Linked DNA regions of Homo sapiens: regions 2, 3 and 4 are each linked to region 1. The links come from fine-mapping of genetic effects on gene expression. A gene starts in region 1. Each other region holds a variant in brackets. All regions are shown on one strand. Distances are from middle to middle.

Region 1 (5,161 bases):
CCCATCTGAACATATCACCTCCCGGCTCAAAGTCCCCAGGTCTTGAGGCTGCCTGTAGGGTCAGTCCAGATTCAGCTTGACCAAGCCAGCTGCTGGCCTCCACGTGCCACACTGACTTCTCCATCTTGTCCAAATAGTCCAGTCTCATTCAGACACTGCACAGGCAAAGCTATACATTTTGCAGCTAAATATTCTGGTTTTCTGCCATTCTGTCAAACACCCCCATCAGCCAGAGGCAGCCAAGGCTTCTTAATCCTTGCTTCATGCTAGAAAGAGCTCCAAGGTCCAGACTCACATCTGTGTCCCCAGGAAAGGTGAGTTGGTGCTAACCCTGTGAGGACTGGCAGATGTGTCTTCATGGTGTTAAAGCTGGGTAAAAAGCAAAGCAGCTGTGCAGACTGCCCCCTGCCAGGCAAGCACCCCACAAAGTCCTTCCTGCCTCTTCCTGCCTGCCTTTGGCTAAAAGCATCTTTCCAGAGAGAATCACACTTGACAGGCAAAGGCACAGGACTGCCAGGGAAGGAGGCTCTCCCCGCCACACCCGGAATAGAAACCCTAGACCCTCCCCCACCTTGCTCCCCAGCGGCATGTAAGGCCTGCAAATGCCCCAGAACCCAGTGCAGCCCAACTCACAAGTCATAGAAGTTGCGCAGGGAGGAGGCTGGGGTGAAGACATCCAGGAGCCCAATGACCTGGGGAAGAAGTCACCTGTGAGGGCTAGACAGACGCTACCTTCTCCTCCCACCTCCTCCTGGGCCCTGGCCATGCACAGGGCCATCCACCCTTTCCTAATACACCACCTCCAGCAGGAGGCATGTCTCCAACCTTCTTGGAAGCAGTAAAAAGGGCAGAGGCCTAGAGGAATCCCCTGGATTTGGAGGGAGTTTGCAATAAATCATGACAGAGAGTCAGGCTGGGGAGAAGGGAAGGTGGGGAGAATGATGTGTGCTCATTGCTGTCAAGTCTGGTGTCAGGGCAAGCAACACAAACCCACTCTCAACTCACCTAGGCAGCAGGAAAGCATAAGGGGAGGGTGGAAGGGAAAAAGGAGGGAACAGAGAAGGAGCTTTTCAGCCAGCAAACTCCCTGCCCCTGACCTTGGGTCTCCAGCCACATCCATCCTTGCCTGCCACAGGGCTGGTTCAGAGCCAAGGGCAAGATCACCCTGGCTGGAGGCCATAGGGGAGGGGTTTGCTGGAGAAGGATGGGCTTAAAATGTACATAACATTTTGAAATCATTCTTTGAAATGTCTGCCCTCCAATCTAGGTATCCTGCAGCAAAGCCTGGCTGCCAGGCCCTGAGCTGGGCCCCTGGTTTTCCCAGCTGCTTCTATCAGACAAGACAATCTGATGGTCATGTGCTCAGACCGGGAGCCTCGCTGCCGAGATTGAAACCCCAGCTCTGCTACTGACTAACCATCTAATCTGTGAGCCTTGCTGTGCTTTAGTTTCCTGTCTGTGACATGGGGGCAGTAGTACTCATATATCATGAGGACTAGACAAGTTAGTGTATGCAGAGCTCTTAGAACATAGGAAGTGCTCAATATGTGTATATTGCTATTGTTATCAGGGTCACGTGGACACAACGCTAACTAGGATTCTAGTCCCAGCTGGCCACAAGCTCTCAGACATGGAACCAATTACAAAGTTCCCCTGTGCCAATTTCCTCTGTAGGATAACACAGTCTGTACCTCACAAAGTGCATTCTGCCAAAAATACCCTTTGACCTCTTCCTGGAAAGTGGGCAGGGAAGGTCTCGGCACCCCCTCCTTTCAATAGTGAGGCGAGAGGCACCGTCAGGGGAGCAGGGAGGAGACTGTCCCGAGCTCTCCATACCGGGAGGCCCCGCCTGCGCCTGCCCCTGACTCCCCAGGGCAGCCCCCACCCCCTCCCCGGGGCAGCCACCACCTACGTTCTCATGCTGCATGTGCTTCAGCAGCAGCAGCTCCCGGTAGGCGCGCTTGGCGAAGATCTCGGACTGAAAGGGTCGGCTCAGCTTCTTGATGGCCACCTTCTCCCCTGACCGCTTGTCGATGGCCGAGCTGTCGGGCACAGGCCGGTCAGCAGGCGAGGCTCTCCTCCTGGGCCGTATCTCCCAGACCGCCCTGACCCCTCCCACTGGGCAGCTGGGCTGAGAGGGGACTAGGCCCACCACCTAGAATATGGGGGAGCCGCGGGACGCAGGGCAGGGAGTAGGAAGCCAGGCAGGAGCTGAGAGAGGGGCACAGCGCCAGGGGCAGCAACGTCTCATTGCGACGGGATCCACGGCAGGGCGGGAGTCTCACTCTGTCTGCAACTTGGCGAGCCACCTCCCCCTCTTGGGGCCTCGGTGTACTCGTCTGTAACAGTGAGGATCTGCCCGATGAACTCTGGGGTCTTGCAAGTGTACAGTCCTGGAGAACCAGGCCCAGTCCCAACTCAACCCCCAGAGACCTCACTCAGCCACTCGGTGAGAAAAGGGAGATGGCCGCTGGGTGGCCCCGGGGAGGGCGCTGGGCCTTGAGGTCCGCGGTCAAGGTGGCGCTGGCGAGGGGCCAGCCCAGGGCGGGCTGGGCGGAAAGGGGAGAGCCTGGCGCCCGCCCCCCGCCCCCCAGCGGCCCAGGGGTCTCACCACACGGAGCCATAGGCCCCGCTGCCGACGTGCGTCGGGGACACGTAGGTCTTGGGCAGCTCCCAGGCTGTCTTGTTGACGTCCTGCTTGTAGAAGCCCTTTTTCCGGATGAGGCTCATCCCGGGCACCCGATCTCGGCGGCCCCAGCGTGGCGGCTGCGTTCGCGGCCCAACGGGCTCCCAGCGCCCCGACCCCCGCTGCGCCCGCCCCGCGCCGCCCGCTCCTCCCCCGCGCGAGGGCGGGGGCCCCGGGCTGCTACGCTCCCACCTGCCGGCTCGCCCAGGTGCGCCGGGGCCGCCACGCCCGGGCCTGTCCAGCCCTGCGCTCCCGCGCTTCCGCCCGGCCCGACGGAGCCACTGCGGCAGGTGCGGCCCAGGCACGGGGTCGGGGCTGCCCAGCGGGACCCCGGTGCCTCCCAGCCGAGCGCGGGCCAGCGGCGGGGCTGGTGGGTCCAAGCAGGAGCGGGGAGGCAGTGCTTCCCAGTTCCCTCCAGCCCCGGTCTCCGTAGGAAGAGCTCCCTGTGACTGTGAACACACAGGAAAGCAGAACAAAACCCCACAACCTCTTCATTATGGAAAATGTCAAACATGCAGGAAAGAATTGAACAGAGTAAGCCAGCGCTTCTCACACTTCAGTGTGCTCAGGAATCCCCTGGGCATTTTATTTGATTAAAATACAGATCCTGACTCAGTAGGTTTGGGGTGGAGCCGAGATTCTGCATTTCTAGCCAGCTCCCAGGTCTGAGGCTTCTGAACCACATCTGATAGGAGGTTCTAATGAACCCCCGTGACCCCAATTCCCCAGCAACCACAACTCATAATCAATTTTATTTCATCCACATTCCTCTCCCACCATCGTTTTGAAGCAAAACCCAGGCGTCATATCATTTTATTCATAAATATTTTTGTATCTCTAAAACGTAAGGATTTTTAAAAGTACGTATCCACAATACTATATATATATATTTTTTGAGACTCTGTCGGAGTGCAGTTGCCATCTCGGCTCACTGCAACCTCCGCCTCCCGGGTTCAAGCAATTCTCTGCCTCCGCCTCCCGATTAGCTAGGATTGTAGGTGCCTGCCACCAAACCCGGCTAATTTTTGTATTTTTAATAGAGATGGGGTTTCACCATCTTGGCCAGGCTGGTCTTGAACTCCTGACCTCGTGAACCACCCGCCTCGGCCTCCGAAAGTGTTGGGATTACAGGCGTGAGCCACCGCGCCTGGCCCACAATACATTCTTAAACCTAAAATTAATAGCACTAATTCTATAATACCAAATATCCACGCAGGTTCAAATGTGCAGGATTTTTGTTTGTTTTTGACATGGAGTCTCACTCTATTGCCTAGGCTGGAGTGCAGTGGCGCCATCTCAGCTCACTGCAACCTCCGCCTCCCAGGTTCAAGCAATTCTCTTGCCTCAGCCTCCTGAGTAGCTGGGACTACAGGTGCACACCACCACTCCTAGCTAATTTTTGTATTTTTAGTAGAGACGGGGTTTCACCATGTTGGCCAGGCTGGTCTTCAACTCCTGACCTCAGGTGGTCCGCCCACCTCAGCCTCCCAAAGTGTTTGGATTACAGAAGTGAGCCACCGCACCTGGCCCAAATGTGCAGTTTTGAACACAGTTTCTGTGGACTTCCTAAGGCTCTATGAGGACAATGACTAATTGGGGCCCTTGCCACCTGTCTGGTGGCCTGTGCAGCCTGATGGAGATTCTTTGCTCAAACCACAAAGGCCTCTGAGGAGCAAGGTGGGCAGGTGGGGGGAGGAGATGGCTGCAAGGGCTCTGGATGCCCAGCCTGACTTGTCCAACCCCTCTCTTGCCCAGGCATGGGGCTGTGGAAGGGGCGGGGACCACCTGCTTCACTTTGTCAAAAAGAAGGTCTATTGAACAAGGAAAGAAATTTGCTAGGGGCTTACAGCAAGCCGGGGGCCCACACTAGGGAGTCTGCAGCCCCCAAACTCTGTGCCCCAAGCCCTCCCGGGCAGTCCTGCAGCCTCAGGCACAGCCTGGAAGATCATTCTGAGATGAGGGTGGGGTGCCATCATCACACAACAACACCTGCCATTATTTCAGTCAGGCAATCTGTCTTTTTCATTTCTGGCACATGGCAATATAACAGCAAATGTGTGGAGAATGAATGGAGGAGTCAGCCCATTAGATGTAAAAGAGTCATTTAATACACACTTGTGTTTGCCATGTGCCCGTCATTAAGTGTTTTATATAACTCACTTAATCCTGGTAAGAGGCCTGTGAGTCAGTAATATGATTATCCTCATTTTAGAGATGAGGAACCCGAGGTACAGAGAGGCTAAGTAATTTGCCCAAGGTAACACAGCTGGTAAGGGCAGAGCTGGGTGAAAGCAAGTACAGCCTGATTCTAGAGTCCCTGCTCTTGGCTGCGAGGCTATGCGGTGGCCTAGAGTTGACAGAATTGCTCCTCAAAGGAAATGGCCTTGCCCACATCATAAGGACATGTCTACTGATCCAACCATGTCTCCCTCAGTCCATCCTGCCCTGGGGTATCTGATATTTTCCCCAGCCTTT
Region 2 (5,161 bases), 670 kb before region 1:
TCCTAGAAATATTCACTGTGTTGGGACCTGTTTTTTGGGGGACAGGGGCCCTGACTCAACTTGAGAACCCAGGCAGGATTGGGCAGAACGTCCGCAGCTGCCTTCATCGTTTCTCTGTGTTCCCTGCAGATACGACGTTGACTCTAAGAGTCCTGATTTATCCAAACACGTGAGTTCTGCCAGTAACTGCTCAGCAATTCCATAGTTTCTGAAATGCCATCCTCTGGGTGAGCCTGGGGCTTTGCTGTGATGGAATGTGTGTCCGACGCTGCGTCCTGTCATTTAAGGGCCCTCACGCTTCCAGGAATTGGGCGATGGGGGAGGTGGGATAGCTGTGAGCAGAGTGGGTGACACTGGTCTCTTCTGTTCCCTGGATATGCAGGATTTCCTGGGCCAGGCCTTCTGCACCCTTGGAGAGATTGTGGGGTCCCCTGGGAGCCGCCTGGAAAAGCCCCTCACGTGAGTGTCTGGGTTGCTTTCCCAGTGGTAGGCCAACTTCCCGCCCATTCTGCTGGGGGCTGGCTCAGGATGGGGACAAAGCAGTCAGCTGGCTATGACTGGCATCTGCAGGGTTATTAGGAATAAAGAGACCCCATGCCTCACTGCTCTCACAGGGCTTCTAATCCAGGTATTTCAGGGGAACCCAGGATGGGTTATTAGAGTCCCATCTCCTGGGAAGGCCCAGGAGGAAATAGACTAGACACCATATAGTCTATTCCCACCCTGACCCCTATCATAGTGTGGAAGAAGAAACTGAAGCCCAGAGAGGGGAAGTGACTTGCCCAAGGACACACAGCTAGGAAGAGGGAGAGCTGGGAGCTGGGATTTGAACCCAGGGCTCTACTCACATAGCATATTCCTAAGATTGTTCACAGCTTGTAGGCCAGAGCTGGGTACAGTGAGGCTCCTCCCGTCCCATCCTGTCCCTGATGGTCCCTGACCTTAATTTGCTTTTAGGGAAAAGCTGTTACTCTGAAGCGGGCTCTGGGATGAGGAATCCAAGGCTTCTCACAGTGGAGCCTGATGATGTCTTCAGGGACCAGCCAGGGCTGGCCGTGTGGTGAGGGTGACCTCTCTTGTCCCTATTTCTCAGGAAGTACCAGGGGCAGGGCCCTTGCCTGTATAAACGATTCTTACCTTTCCCCACACTGGGGAACACTGGTCACCATTCTTTGGTGTCCATATTTCTCTGGACGGCCACCCTCACACTTTGCATTTAAATAAACTAATTTAACTGGATCCCGAGGCTTTTGATTATTTTAGGTTGACACTCGTGGGCAGGGCCCAGGAAAGAGAGGGCAGACTGGGACAGGCATCCAGGCCACAGGGCAAAGCGGCCGGGAAAGGGAGATCATCAGATCTTCTGCCAAGTTCCCACTGGACGCTGTCCCCTCACCATGATCAATAACTGCAGTGTGAACCGGGCACGGTGGCTCACGCCTGTAATCTCAGCACTTTGGGAGGCCAAGGCGATGGATCGCCTGAGCTCAGGAGTTCGAGACCAGCTTGGCCAACATGGTGCAACCCTGTCTCTACTAAAAATACAAAAAAATTAGCTGGGTGTGGTGGTGCACACCTGTAGTCCCAGCTACTCTGGAGGCTGAGGCACGAGAATCACTTGAACCCAGGAGGTTGCAGTGAGCCGAGATTGGGCTACTGTACTCCAACCTGGGCAACAGAGTGAGACTCTGTCTCAAAATAATAATAATAATAATAACTGCAATGTGTGTGTGTGTGGTCTCTCTTCCAGATCCTTGCCCGTGACCCCCAGTAACTCATGATAACTTCAGGGCCCCCGGAAATGTTTCCTTGGCCCCCAAAAGGTCTCATCTCTGGGTTCCTAGAAAACAGTGAAAATAGCTATCATTTATTGAGAATGGGGGAAAACCCCTGTTTTGGGGGTCTCTATAGCTTATAGAATTTGAGGGCCTCTTGCAAAAAAGCATACAAAATTCACATTCATATTTGCTAGGCCCCTCCCTCTTAGGACTTATTTCTAACAGTTTTCATTCGTAATTTTATATTCTTTCTCTAGGAACATCTGCCCCTGTGCCCACTTCAGTGTTAACCATGTGCTGAGTGTAGCATACCCATTAGCATCTGCTCTTTCCAGCAGCACCCCCACCCGTGGCTTTACCTGGGTTGCCAGGATGGAGATGCCCTATGAGGGAGGGTGTCTGTGCTTCCCAACTCCCAGCTGCCTGGGTCCAAAGCCACTAGTCATTTGGGTCTGTTTCCTTCCTGATCTCACCTGGTCCACCGTTGGTGACAGGAAACACCCTCTGGGGGTGGGGGAGTATTGAGGGAGACTTCCTATGGAGATGGCTTTTGAAACTGAGCCTTAAAGGACAAGCAAGTTCTAAAATATAGAGGTTGGCAGGGCTCAGTAGCTCATGCCTGTAATCCCAGCACTGTGGGAGGCCGAGGCGGGTGGATCACCTGAGGTCGGGAGTTTGAGACCAGCCTGACCAACATGGAGAAACCTTGTCTCTACTAAAAATACAAAAATTAGCCTGGCGTGGTGGCACATGCCTGTAGTCCCAGCTACTAGGGAGGCTGAGGCAGGAGAATCGCTTGAACCCAGGAGGCGGAGGTTGCAGTGAGCTGAGATTACACCACTGCACTCTAGCCTGGGTGACAGAACGAGATTCCATCTCAAAAATAAAATAAAATAAAATAAAATACAGAGGTTGACGGCAATGTTGGAGGAGGAGGTGGACCTTTTACCCCATCGAAGATTTCACATATCTTAGTTTAGTTGTCTTCCTGACTAAACCCTGTGAACAGCTCCTGTTTACTGGGCATCTATTTTGGGCCAGGCATGAGGGTCAGTGTTTTGCTTGTGAAATCTGTGTTAGTTCGCTGGGACCATTGTGGCAAATACCACAAACTGAGTGGCTTAAATAAGAAAAATTGATTTTCTCACAATTCTGGCGGCTAGACGTCGGAGATCAAGATGTCAACAGAGTTCATGTCTTCTGAGGATGGCTGTCTTCTTTTTCATCTCTGTGTCTTCAGATTGTCATCTCTCTGTGCACCTCTGTGTCCTAGTCACCTCTTCATATGAGGACACCAGCCATTGGATTAGGGTCCACTGCCATGACCTCATTTTACCTTAATTACCTCCTTAAAGACCCTATCTCCAGGCTGGGCAT[G/A]GTGGCTCACGCCTGTAATCCAATCACTTTGGGAGGCCAAGGTGGGCAGATCACCTGAGGTCAGGAGTTCGAGACCATCCTGGCCAACATGGTGAAACCTCGTCTCTACTAAAAATACAAAAATTAGCCGGGCATGGTGGTGCGTGCCTGTAGTCCCAGCTACCTGGGAGGCTGAGGCAGGATAATCACTTGAACCTGGTAGGTGGAGGTTGCGGTGAGCCGAGATCACGCCACTGCACTCCAGCCTGGGTGACAGAGCGAGACTCTGTTTCAAAAATAAAAATGAAAATAAAAAAATAAAAAAGACTCTATTTCCAAATATAGTCACATTCTGAGGACCTGGAGATTAAGATTTCAATACATGAATTTTGGGGGATACAGTTCAGCCCATATCATGATCTCATGTGATTCTTCCAGCAGTCTCCCCATCTTGCAGTCTGGATGCGGAGTCTGGAAAGGGAGAACAGGGGTTCCCAAGCTGCAGCAGGTACCAGTGTCACCAAAGATTGCTGGGCTCCACCCCGCAGAGTTCCTGATCCTGTGGGTATGGGCTCGGCCTGGGAATTTACATTCCTATTAATAACATTCCCAGGACATGCTGGTGCTGCTGGTCTGGGCATCCCACCTTGAGAACCACTGAAGGAGAGGAATTTGCCCAGAAGAAGGACTCCACTTGCTCTGGCCTGTGGCTTTGATCCTGTTTTAATGACTTCCAGAGCAGCCGCTTGTCTCCAAGCATCTGGATGCCAAGTGCGCTGGCCTGTCTGGGTGGGGGTACTCAGCTCATGGCATGCTCTCTCTCCCCCTCTCTCTCCACAGGATAGGCGCATTCAGCCTGAATTCCAGGACGGGCAAACCCATGCCAGCTGTGTCCAACGGGTACGTTGCCAGACATCTCTGGCCCTGGAGTCCTTAGACATTCAGCCAGCTCTGCAAAGGGGGCCTCAGAGTCTGGGCCTCGTCCCTGCTCCCATCACTGCGAATTTGGCCCTGATCCGGGGACAGAGAGTCCTGGGTTCCTCCTTAGGCACCCAGGCTCTTTGGGCCCTGAACAGAGGCCCCCACTCGGCAGTGGGCCCCTCCCCCATCCAAGCTAGAGCTTGGGCATCTCAAGCCCCAGTGGCTCCTGGGACTTCAGGGAGAGGGTGGGGCTTACAGGTGGGGGATGTTGTCTATGAATAGCGGGGCTGGGCACTCTCTGTTCCCTTCCTCTCTCCCTGGCCTGGCTTCTCTAGGCCCCCAATCCCCACCCTTCTCTCCCCCTCTTTCCTCCCCTGTCTTTATCCTTTCCCCCCTGTTCCCCTCCCTTGTTTTGGCTGCTGGATGTCCGCCTCCTCCTCACCACAGAGTAGATCCAGCTGAATCCCCACTTTTCACGTTTGCTCGTTTGCTCGCCAGCTGCGGTGGGCCAGCCTCACTCCACCACCCTGACCATCTGGCTTCGGCTGGCCTCATGCAAATGTGGCCAACGCAGAGCCTCCCCCTCCTTCCCTCCCCTTCTTTCCCGGTTGGGGAGTTCCCACCCTGGCTTCTTTCTCACGCCCACTCGCCCACTGGGGCTGGAGGTGGGGGTGTGCAGGGCAGGGAACCTCTGCCTGGAGGGGCCTCTGCAGAAGGGCATTTTGTTGGGGTAAGCAGAGCTCCCCTGGCCTTCCCTGAGAGCTCTCAGGAATTGAGGTTGCAGCAGCTGGATATGCCACTGGACCAGCTGCAGGTGGGGAAGGGGCCTCCGGCGGGCCCGGGGATGCTCACAGCCCAGGGAGAGCATGGATGCTAATTCACCTGGAGAGTAGAGAAGCAGCAACTGGGGAGGCAGCAGGAGTCAGACAGAGATACAAAGACAGGGAGGGAGGGAGAGAGAGAAAGGAAGGCCAAGAAGGTGGGAGCAGGTTGGGGCTGGAGAGGAGGGAAAGAAGGATCGGAAATAGAAGAAGGACTCAGAGGCAAAGAGAGGAACAGATGGAGAAACATGGGGCGGAGGAGGCTGGCGTGGAGGATTCTATCTC
Region 3 (5,156 bases), 44 kb after region 1:
TCTTTAAAAAATAATAATGCTATCATTAGGCCAGATGGAAGGGTTCTGCAAAGTCACAAACAAGAATAATTTCTAATCTGATAACACATTATTGGCTTTAAGACAAAAATGAGTATTTCTTATATTTTTTTAAAATTAAATTAAAGTTCTGAGATACAAGTGCAGGATGTGCAGGTTTGTTACATAGGTAAATATGTGCCATCGTGGTTTGCTCCACCTATCAATCCATCACCTAGGTGTTAAGCCCCGCATGCCTTAGCTATTTATCCTGATGCGTTCCCTCCGCCTGACCCCCACCCCACCAACAGGCCCCAGCGTGTGTTGTTCTCCTCCATGTGTCCATGTGTTCTCATTGTTCAGCTCCCACTTGTGAGAACATGTGGTGTTTGGCTTTCTGAGGAAAATGGCTTCAAGCTCCATCAGTGTCCCCGCAAAGGGCACAATCTCATTCATTTTTATGGGTGTATAGTATTCCATGGTGTATATGTACCATGTTTTTTTATCCAGTCCATCACTGATGGGCATTTGGGTTGATTCCATGTCTTTGCTATTCTGAATACTGCTGCAATCAACATACACATGCATGTATCTTTGTAACAGAATGATTTATATTCCTTTGGGTATATACCCAGTAATGGGATTGCTGGGTCAAATGTTATTTCTGGTTCTAGGTCTTTGAGGATTTCACCAGTCTTCCACAATGGTTGAACTAATTTACATTCCTACCAACGGTGTAAAAGTGTTCATATTTCTCCATAGCCTCACCAGCATCTGTTGTTTCTTGACTTTTTAATAATCACCATTCTGACTAGCATGAGACAGTATCTCATTGTGGTTTTCATTTGCATTTCTCTAATGGTCAGTGACACTGAGCTTTTTTTCATGTTTGTTGGCTGTATAAATGTCTTCTTTTGAGAAGTGTTTGTTCATGTCCTTTGCCAATATTTTTTTTTTTTTTTTGAGACGGAGTCTCGCTCTGTCGCCCAGGCTGGAGTGCAGTGGTGTGATCTCGGCTCACTGCCAGCTCCGCCTCCTGGGTTCACGTCATTCTCCTGCCCCAGCCTCCTGAGTAGCTGGGACTACAGGCGCACACCACCATGCCTGGCTAATTTTTTGCATTTTTAGTAGAGATGGGGTTTCGCCAAATTAGTCAGGATGATCTCGATCTCCTGACCTCGTGATCCACCTGCCTCAGCCTCCCAAAGTGCTGGGATTACAGGCATGAGTCACTGTGCCTGGCCCTTTGCCAACTTTTTAATGGGTTTTTTCCTTGTAAATTTGTTTAAATTCCTTGTAGATTCTGGATATTAGACTTTTGTCAGATGGATAGATTGCAAAAACTGTCTCCCATTCTGTAGGTTGTCTGTTCACTCTGACGATAGTTTCTTTTGCTGTGCAGAAGCCCATTTGTCAGTTTCTGCTTTTGTTGCCATTGCTTTTGATGTTTTCATCATGAAATTTTTGCCCATGTCTATGTCCTTAATGATATTGCCTAGATTTTCTTCTAGGGTTTTTATCGTTTTGGGTTCTACATTTAAGTCTTTAATCCATCTTGAGTTAATTTTTGTATAAGGTGTAAGGAAGGGGTCCAGTTTCAATTTTCTGCACATGGCTAGCCAGTTCTCCCAGCACCATTTATTAAATAGGGAATCCTTTCCCCATTGCTCGTTTTGTCAGGTTTGTTGAAGATCAGATGGTTGTAGATGTGCAGTTTTATTTCTGAGATCTCTATTCTGTTCCATTGGTCTGTTTTTGTACTAGTACCATGCTGTTTTGATTACTGTAGCCTCGTAGTATAGTTTGAAGTCAGGTAGTGTGATGCCTCCAGGTTTGTTCTTTTTGCTTAGAATTGTTTGGGCTATATGGACTCTTTTTTGGTTCCATATGAATTTTAAAGTTTTTTTCTAATTCTGTGAAGAATGTCAACAGTAGTTTAATGGGAATAGCATTAAATTTATAAATTACTTTGGGCAATATGGCCATTTTCATGATATTGATTCTTCCTATCCATGAGCACAGAATGTTTTTCCATTTGTTTGTGTCCTCTCTGATTTCCTTCAGCAGTGGTTTGTAGTTCTCCTTGAAGAGGTCCTTCACTTCCCTTGTTATTAATAGCTATAGTTCTGGGTATTTTATTCTCTTTTAGCAGTTGTGAATAAGAGTTCATTCATGATTTGGCTCTCTGCTTGCCTACTGTTGGTGTATAGGAATAGTTGTGATTTTTGCACTTTGATTTTGTATCCC[G/C]AGACTTTGCTGAAGTTGCTTATCAGCTTAAGAAGCTTTTGGGCTGAGACAACAAGGTTTTCTAGATATAGGATCATGTCACCTGCAAACAGAGTTTTACTTCCTCTCTTCCTATTTGAATACCCTTTCTTTCTTTCTTTTGCCTGATTGCCCTGGCCAGAATTTCCAATACTATGTTGAATAGGAGTAGGGAAAGAGGGCATCCTTGTGCCAGTTTTGAAGGGGAATACTTCCAGCTTTTGCCTATTCAGTAAGATACTGGCTGTGGGTTTGTCTTACATGGCTTATTTTGAGGTATGTTCCATCAACACCTAGTTTACTGAGAGTTTTTAACATGAAGGGATGTTGAATTTTATTAAAGGCCTTTTCTGCATCCATTGAGATAATCATGTGGTTTTTGCCTTTAGTTCTGTTTATGTGATCAATTATGTTTATTGATTTGCATATGTTAAAACAGCCTTGCATCCCAGGGATGAAGCTGACTTGACCGTGGTGGATGGATAAGCTTTTGACATGCTGCTGGATTTGGTTTGCCAGTATTTTACTGAGGATTTTTGCATCGATGTTCATCAGGGATATTGGCCTTAAGTTTTCTTTTTCTGTTGTATTTCTGGCAGGCTTTGGTATTGGGATAATACTGGCCTCATAAAATGAGTTATAGGGGAGTCCCTCCTTTTGTATGTTTGGAATAGTTTCAGAAGAAATGGTACCAGCTCTTCTTTGTACCTCTGGTAGAATTTGGCTGTAATCTGTCTGGTCCTGGGCTTTTCTTGCTTGGTAGGCTATTTATTACTGCCTCAATTTGAGAACTTGTTATTGGTAGATTCAACGTTTTCCTGGTTCAGTCTTGGGAGGTCATATGTGTCCAGGAATTCATCCATTTCTTCTAGATTTTCTAGTTTATTTGCATAGAGGTGTTTATAGTATTCTCTGATAGTTGTTCATATTTCTGCAGGGTCAGTGGTGATACCCCCTTTATCATTTTTATTGTGTCTATTTGATTCTTCTTTCTTCATTACTCTAGCTAGGAGTCTATTTTATTTTATTTTATGTTTTTCAAAATACCAGATCTTGGGAGTCACTGATATTTTTGGAAGGGTTTTTCCTGTCTCTATCTCCTTCAGTTCCACTCTGATCTTGGTTATTTCTTGTCCTCTGCTAGCTTTAGGGTTTGTTTGGTCTTGGTTCCCTAGTTCTTTTAGTTGTGATGTTAGGGTGTCAATTTGAGATCTTTCTAGCTTTTTGATGTGGGCATTTAGTGCTATAAACTTCCCTCTTAACACTGCTTTAGCTGTGTCCCAGAGATTCTGGTATGTTCTCTTTGTTCTCATTGGTTTCAAAGAACTTCTGATTTCCGCCTTAATTTCATTATTTATCCAGGAGTCATTCAGGAGCAGGTTGTCCAATTTCCACGTAATTGTGTGGTTTTGAGTGAGTTTCTTAATCTTAGTTCTAATTTGATTGTGCTGTGGTGTGAGAGGCTGTGTGTTATATTTTCAGTTCTTTTGCAGTTACTGAGGAGTGTTTTACTTCCAATTATGTGATCAATTTTAGCCTAAGTGCGATGTGCTGCTAAGAAGAATGTATATTCTGTTGTTTCTGTATAGAGAGTTCTGTAGCTATCTATCAGGTCCAGAGCTGAGTTCAAGTCCTGAATATCCTTGTTAATTTTCTGCTTGATGATCTGTCTAATATTGACAGTGGGGTATTAAAGTCTCACACTATTATTGTATGGGAGTCTAAGTCTCTGTGTAGGTCTCTAAGAACTTGGTTTATAAATCTGGGTGCTCCTGTATTAGGTGCATATATATTTAGGATAGTTAGCTTTTCTTGTTGAATTGAGCCCTTTACCACTATGTAATGCCCTTGTCTTTTTTGATATTTGCTGGTTCAAAGTCTGTTTTGTCAGAAAATAGGATTGCAACCCCTGCTTTTTTCTGCTTTCCATTTGCTTGGTAAATTTTCCTCCATCCCTTTATTCTGAGCCTTTGTATGTCTTTGCATGTTAGATGGGTCTCTTGAATACAACAGCATACTGATGGGTCGTGATTCTTTATCCAGCTTGCCGTTCTGTGTTTTTTAATTGGGGCATTTAGCCCACTTACATTTAAGGTTAATATTTTTTATGTGTGAATTTGATCCTATCATCATGATGCTAGCTGGTTATTTTGCAGACTTGTTGAGGTAACTGCTTCATAGTGTTACTGGTAAAAGAAAACAGTGTGTTTCTGTAGTGGCCAGTAAGTTTTTCCTTTCCATATTTAGTGCTTCCTTCAGGAGCTCTTGCAAGACAGGCCTGGTGGTGACGAATTCCCTCAGCATTTGCTTGTCTAAAAAGGATTTTATTTCTTCTTTGACTATGAAGCTTAGTTTGGCCAGATATGAAACTTTGGGTTGGAAATTCTTTAAGAATGTTGAATATTGGCCCCGAATCTCTTCTGGCTTGTAGGGTTTTTGCTGAGGTCCACTCTTAGCCTGATGGGCTTCCCTTTGTAGGTGACCTAGCCTTTCTCTCTGGCTGCCCTTAGTATTTTTTCCTTCATTTCAACCTTGGAGAATCTGATGATTATGTATCTTGGGGTTGATCTTCTCATGGGGTAGCTTACTGGGGTTCTCTAGGGATTTCCTGATTTGAATGCTGGCCTGTCTTGCTAGGTTGGGGAAGTTCTCCTGGCTGATATCCTGAAGTGTGTTTTCCAACTTGTTTCCATTCTCCCCAATTCTTTTAGGTACCCCTATCATTCGCAGGTTCAGTCTTTTTAAATAATCCCATAGTTCTCAAAAGTTTTGTTCATTTCCTTTCATTCTTCTCTTATCTTGTCAGCAAGATAGTCTTCAAGCTCTGAAATTCTTTCCTCCACTTGGTCTATTTGGCTATTGATACTTGTGGTTGCATTATGAAGTTCTCATGT
Region 4 (5,161 bases), 140 kb after region 1:
GAAACTGTTCCACCTCAGATGACCTGGCATTTGATTCTCATAAGGAGCATGCAACCTAGATTCCTCGCATGTGCAGTTCACAATAGGGTTTGTGCTTCCCTGAGAATCTAATGCTGTGGCTGATCTGACAGAAGGTGGAGAGCTCAGGCAGTGATGCTTGCTTGCCTGCTGCTCACCTCCTGCTGTGCAGCACCCGGTTCCTAACAGGCCACAAACCAGTACCAGTACTGGTCGGTGGCCCCAGGGGTCTGGGGACTCTTAGTCCAGAGCTCCACTCCTGATCTTACCTTTTCAAAAATTGCTTCATATTCTTTTTTTTTTTTTAGATGGAGTTTTGCTCTTGTTGCCCAGGCTGTAGTGCAATGGGACAATCGTGGCTCACTGCAATCTCCGCCTCCCAGGTTCAAGTGATTCTCCTGCCTCAGCCTCCCAAGTAGCTGGGATTACAGGTGCATGCCACCACACCCAGCACATTTTTATATTTTTAGTAGAGAAGGGGTTTCACCATGTTAGCCAGGCTGGTCTTGAACTCCTGACCTCGGGTGATCCACCCACCTCGGCCTCCCAAACTGTTGGGATTATAGGTGTGAGCCACTGCACCCAGCCAAAAGTTGCTTTATATTCTATCAACAAGAATGGACTCATTTAGCTGGGCATGGTAGCATGTGCCTGTAGTCCCAGTTACTCAGGAGGCTGAGGTGGGAGGATCACTTGAGCCCAGGAGGTTGAGGCTGCAGTAAGCTGTGATCATGCCACTGCACTCCAGCCTGGGTGGCACAGCGAGACCCTGTCTCCAAAATAATAATAATAATAAAAATAATGATGGCCTCACAGGCTCACACACTATCTTTGGGTTAGTAAGCTTTAGAGCCAGATCTGGAATCCTTTTTCTGCATTGACAAGGACCACAGCTAAAGGACAATAATATGAATGACTCATTAAAATCTCAAAACTTATTTTGGCTCTGTCTTTAATTTCCTCTGAGAGTCTATCACCAAAAGTTCATCTACTGAACTAGTCACATCCTCCAGGCTTATTTCTCTTTTTTCTCAACTAACCCAGTCTCTAGTTGATTTTCACTGATCTCCCCTGGGACTGTCTTTCACTAAGTAAAGATTTATTGGGTACCTACAAAGGCAGGCTATCAAAGTGGGCAGACTCCAGCCCTGACACTATGAGCTGTGTGAATTTTGGTAAATTATTTTACCTTGGTGGGCCTCAGTTTCCTCATGTATAAAGCAGGAATAATATTTGTTTTGCAGGGTTCTTAGGAGGATTTAGTGAAAAAAATGCATGCAAAGTATTTAGCCTAGAGCTTGTCACATAGTAAGCATCAATAAGTTATAATTAGTGGGCACAGAGAAATGAATTTGGTACTTTAACAGAGACCAAAAATTTAAAAAACAATATATAGTTTCCTGTGGTTAAAAAGTTTAATCTTGTGGGATAAGACAAAATACACAAGCAACCTTTTAATTATCAAGGGGCCTCATGCATGCTTTCTCTTCTCCTTCAAGCCTCAGCTTTTTTCATCTAAAAAAGGAAGAGGGCTGGGCATGGTGGCTCACATCTGTAATCCCAGCACTTTGGGAGACTGAAGCAGGAGGATTGCTTGGGGCCAGGAGTTTGAGACCAGCCTGGGCAACATAGGCAAACTCTGTCTCTACAAAACAAAATAAAAAAAAAAAATAGCTGGGTGTGGTGGTGCACGCCTGTAGCACACTACTATGGTCCTTATTTTAAGAAAACAAGGGCATAGAGAGGTTAAGAAAATTGCCCAAGGTCACATAGCTAAGACACCAAACTGGGATTCAGTTTTAGGGTTGTCTGATTGTAGAATCTGTGCTCTAGGAAATCTTAAGCATAAAATAATATTCATATAAGAGTTTAGTGCCAAAAGAACATGAAGTTAAAAAATAACCTCTAGTTGAGTCGAAGTTATCTGGGAAGGAAACAACTATTTATTGAGCCCTCCCTTTCATTCATTCAACATTTAGTACTGGCTTCCTATAAGAATGGCAGATAGGTTTCATCTCACAGGCCAACCCTGACTGATTAACAGTGGCTGCCTAGAATATTATGTTAACACTGAACGTGATGCCATATTACAGTGGGCAAGAAAGAGTTCTAAGGCAATTGCAGATTTTTGCCATTTACAAGATGGAAGGCAGGGATGGTATGAAGAAGAGTAACATATATTTGCATATATGAGTGATACATATTTGTCACTATTTTCACATCTGAGCTAGGTATTTTACATGTGTGATGAAATTTAATCTATTCAAAACACTTTACATTGAATATTATTCACATTTTATAGATGAGGAAACTGAGGTTCAAAGAGTTAACTTGCCCACACTTACACAGCCAATGAGTGGCTGGGCCAGGACTGAAGCCAGATTCTCCAAGCCCAGGAACCATGCTTTTTTCACCACACTCCTTAAAGGAGAGGAATTTTACTGAGCTCTTGAAAGATGATGCAGGCCAGCCACAGTGGCTCACGCCTGTAATTCCGGCACTTTGGGAGACCAAAGCGGGTGGATCACTTGAGGTCAGGAGTTCAAGACCAGCCTGGCCAACTTGGCGAAACCCTGTCTCTACTTAAAAATACAAAAATTAGCCAGGCGTGGTGCTGGGCACCTGTAATCCCAGCTACTCGGGAGGCTGAGGTGGGAGAATCACCTGAACCTGGGAGGCACAGGTTGCAGTGAGCCAAGATTGTACCACTGCACTCCAGCCTGGGTGACAGAGCAAGACTCCGTCTCAAAAAAAAAAAAAAAAGAGATGATGCACATGGATTGGCAGAGATGGAAAAAAGAGGGGCTCATGCATAAGCACAGAAGTAGGAGTCAGCCAGTCACGCAAGAAATAGGAAGCAGACTGGCCTGACTAGAGTAAAATAGAACATTGGGCGGCAATGACAGGAGATTAAGGGAGAGACAGTTGGCAGGGCGCAGTGGCTCACGCCTGTAATCCCAGCACTTTGAGAGGCCGAGGCGGGCGGATCACAAGGTCAGGAGATCGAGACCATCCTGGCTAACACGGTGAAACCCTGTCTCTACTAAAAATACAAAAAATTAGCCGGGCTTGGTGGCGGGCGCCTGTAGTCCCAGCTACTCGGGAGACTGAGGCAGGAGAATGGCGTGAACCTGGGAGGT[G/A]GAGATTGCAGTGAGTCGAGATCACGCCACTGCACTCCAGCCTGGGCGACAGAGCAAGACTCCGTCTCAAAAAAAAAAAAAAAAGAAAAGAAAAAAAAAGGGAGACACAGTGCCGGGCTGATTGAAAGCTTTGAAACAAAAACCTGTTAAAGCAAAATGATTTATTGTTCCAAATTTGTTTGTTTTCTGAGAGCTTTTAGTGGAGTGGAGAGTGAAGTGATGATTGTAAGCTTTAAGACTTCTGTTTTGCTCCTTTCCACCCTGCTTACTGAAAAGTCTTCATTGGGCTGTGCCAGTTTTCTTAACCTACCCTCTTTTTGTTTTTTATTTTTCTTGTTGTAGAGACAAAGTGTCGCCATGTTGCCCAGGCTCATCTCAAATTCCTGAGCTCAAGCGACCCTCCCACTTGAGCCTCCCAAAGTGCTGAGATTACAGGCATGAGCCACCACACCCAACCTAATTGTGGTTTTTATTATAAAAGACGAACATCTCAAATAGTAAAAAAGTGTATAAATTATCAAATATTGTCCCCAACATCTAACCCCATTCCCCAAAGGTAATTCCTGTTAATCATTTGAGGTCTATCCTTTTAGATCCTGTGTGTATAAAATTTTATTATATACTATATAACATAAATTTTACATATGCATATTGACATGTAAAATACCTTTTTTATTTTCCTTCAGGATATGCATAATCCTGAAAACATAAATAAATTCAATTTAATTATTCTCAGTAAAGATAAGAGTCAAAGGCCAAGAAGTTTGAGCTCGATCCCACTGTTTTGAAATTCTCTTCTCCTTTGTGAAAAGCTGCATTCCTCAGAGGAATGTTAACATCTCCTGAAAAGGGCTATCAAAGCTTCTAATGAAAGAGGTTTAAAAAGGCAAAGGCAGGCCAGGCACAGTGCGTTCATGCCTGTAATCCCAGGGTTTTGGGAGGCCAAAACAGGAGAATCACTTGAGGTCAGGAGTTCGAGACCAGCCTAGGTAATATAGCAAGACCCCCCCCTCCAATCTCTATCAAAAAAAAAAAAAAAAAAAATGCCCAGTGTGAGCATCTGTAGTCCCAGCTATTTGGGAAGTTGAAGCAGAGAATCCCTTGTGCCCAGGAGTTTGAGGTTACAGTGAGCTATGATTGCACCACTGCACTCCGGCCTGGGCAACAGAGTGAGATCCTGTCTCATAAATAAATAAATAGGCAAAGGCTTGTTCTGATCACCTTGTCCCTGTTTTCCCCAAGTCAACCTAGAGAGCAGTAGATTCTAGGGCAAGAACTTAAGTGAGCTGACTGCTCACAAAGAAGGAAAGGAGTAGTGTGAGCTAGCACTTGTTGGGAGCCTCTGATCAACATACAAGGACCCGTGTTATCAACTTCTGTTCATTAGGGAAAGAGAGTTACAAGAGTTACCAAAGGGGCCTATCTTAACTTTTCTATTGGAAACCCTTCTTTTCCTGGAGAGTGCCATTGGTGCCATTGCTGGATTGAAGACATTCTACCCCACTCTGGTTTTCTCTTCTCTGCAGCTAATAATGGGCGTATTGGGTTTGGGCTTCATTGCCACTTACCTTCCGGAGTCTGCAATGAGTGCTTACCTGGCTGCTGTGGCACTTCATATCATGCTGTCCCAGCTGACTTTCATCTTTGGGATTATGATTAGTTTCCATGCCGGTCCCATCTCCTTCTTCTATGTGAGTAATTTCAACTCTTACCCAGAGTTACAAATGCCACTCCTCTTGCCTCCAAAGAAAAGTGGAGCTCAGTAGGGAGACTCCCGCCCCTTCTGAAAGGAGACACAGCCTATAGGCAGCTCAGTCAAGAGGGTACTAGAAATATTTTCCTTTATTGGAGAATTAGGGTCTTGATTAATTGCAGATGCCAGTTAGACCATGCTTTCAGTTGACTAACCATTTCAGCTCAGCCTTTTAAACTATCATGATATACATTAAAATTTGGCCTTTAAGATATTGTATCTATCACAGTTCTTCTCATTACCTATCTTA

The links.
Region 2: its variant is fine-mapped to the expression of MAPK13 in testis (GTEx, PIP 0.97).
Region 3: its variant is fine-mapped to the expression of MAPK13 in whole blood (TOPMed, PIP above 0.99).
Region 4: its variant is fine-mapped to the expression of MAPK13 in whole blood (TOPMed, PIP 0.92).

What each region holds. Positions count from the first base shown.
Region 1 is chr6:36,128,152-36,133,312 of GRCh38, reverse strand. MAPK13 (mitogen-activated protein kinase 13) reads right to left here and starts at 2,800. Exons shown (of 12, transcript NM_002754.5): 1 at 2,612-2,800; 2 at 1,913-2,042; 3 at 634-692. The coding sequence starts at 2,730. RefSeq lists enhancers at 1,075-1,324, 2,035-2,154, 2,046-2,649 and silencers at 1,795-1,904, 2,545-2,614, 2,655-2,904.
Region 2 is chr6:36,793,463-36,798,623 of GRCh38, reverse strand. CPNE5 (copine 5) reads left to right here. Exons shown (of 21, transcript NM_020939.2): 5 at 130-169; 6 at 383-459; 7 at 3,975-4,034. Among named protein-coding and RNA genes, the nearest start is that of CPNE5, 43 kb to the left of the region's middle. RefSeq lists enhancers at 3,836-4,500, 4,501-5,161. The variant G/A (reference allele first, on the strand shown) is at 3,156.
Region 3 is chr6:36,084,526-36,089,681 of GRCh38, reverse strand. All of the region lies in intron 8 of MAPK14 (mitogen-activated protein kinase 14), which reads right to left. Among named protein-coding and RNA genes, the nearest start is that of MAPK13, 43 kb to the left of the region's middle. The variant G/C (reference allele first, on the strand shown) is at 2,245.
Region 4 is chr6:35,992,198-35,997,358 of GRCh38, reverse strand. It overlaps SLC26A8 (solute carrier family 26 member 8), which reads left to right. Exons shown (of 20, transcript NM_052961.4): 6 at 4,685-4,849. It overlaps LOC105375035 (a long non-coding RNA gene), which reads right to left. Exons shown (of 7, transcript XR_926747.3): 7 at 4,778-4,941. Among named protein-coding and RNA genes, the nearest start is that of SLC26A8, 30 kb to the left of the region's middle. RefSeq lists an enhancer at 3,746-4,259. The variant G/A (reference allele first, on the strand shown) is at 3,159.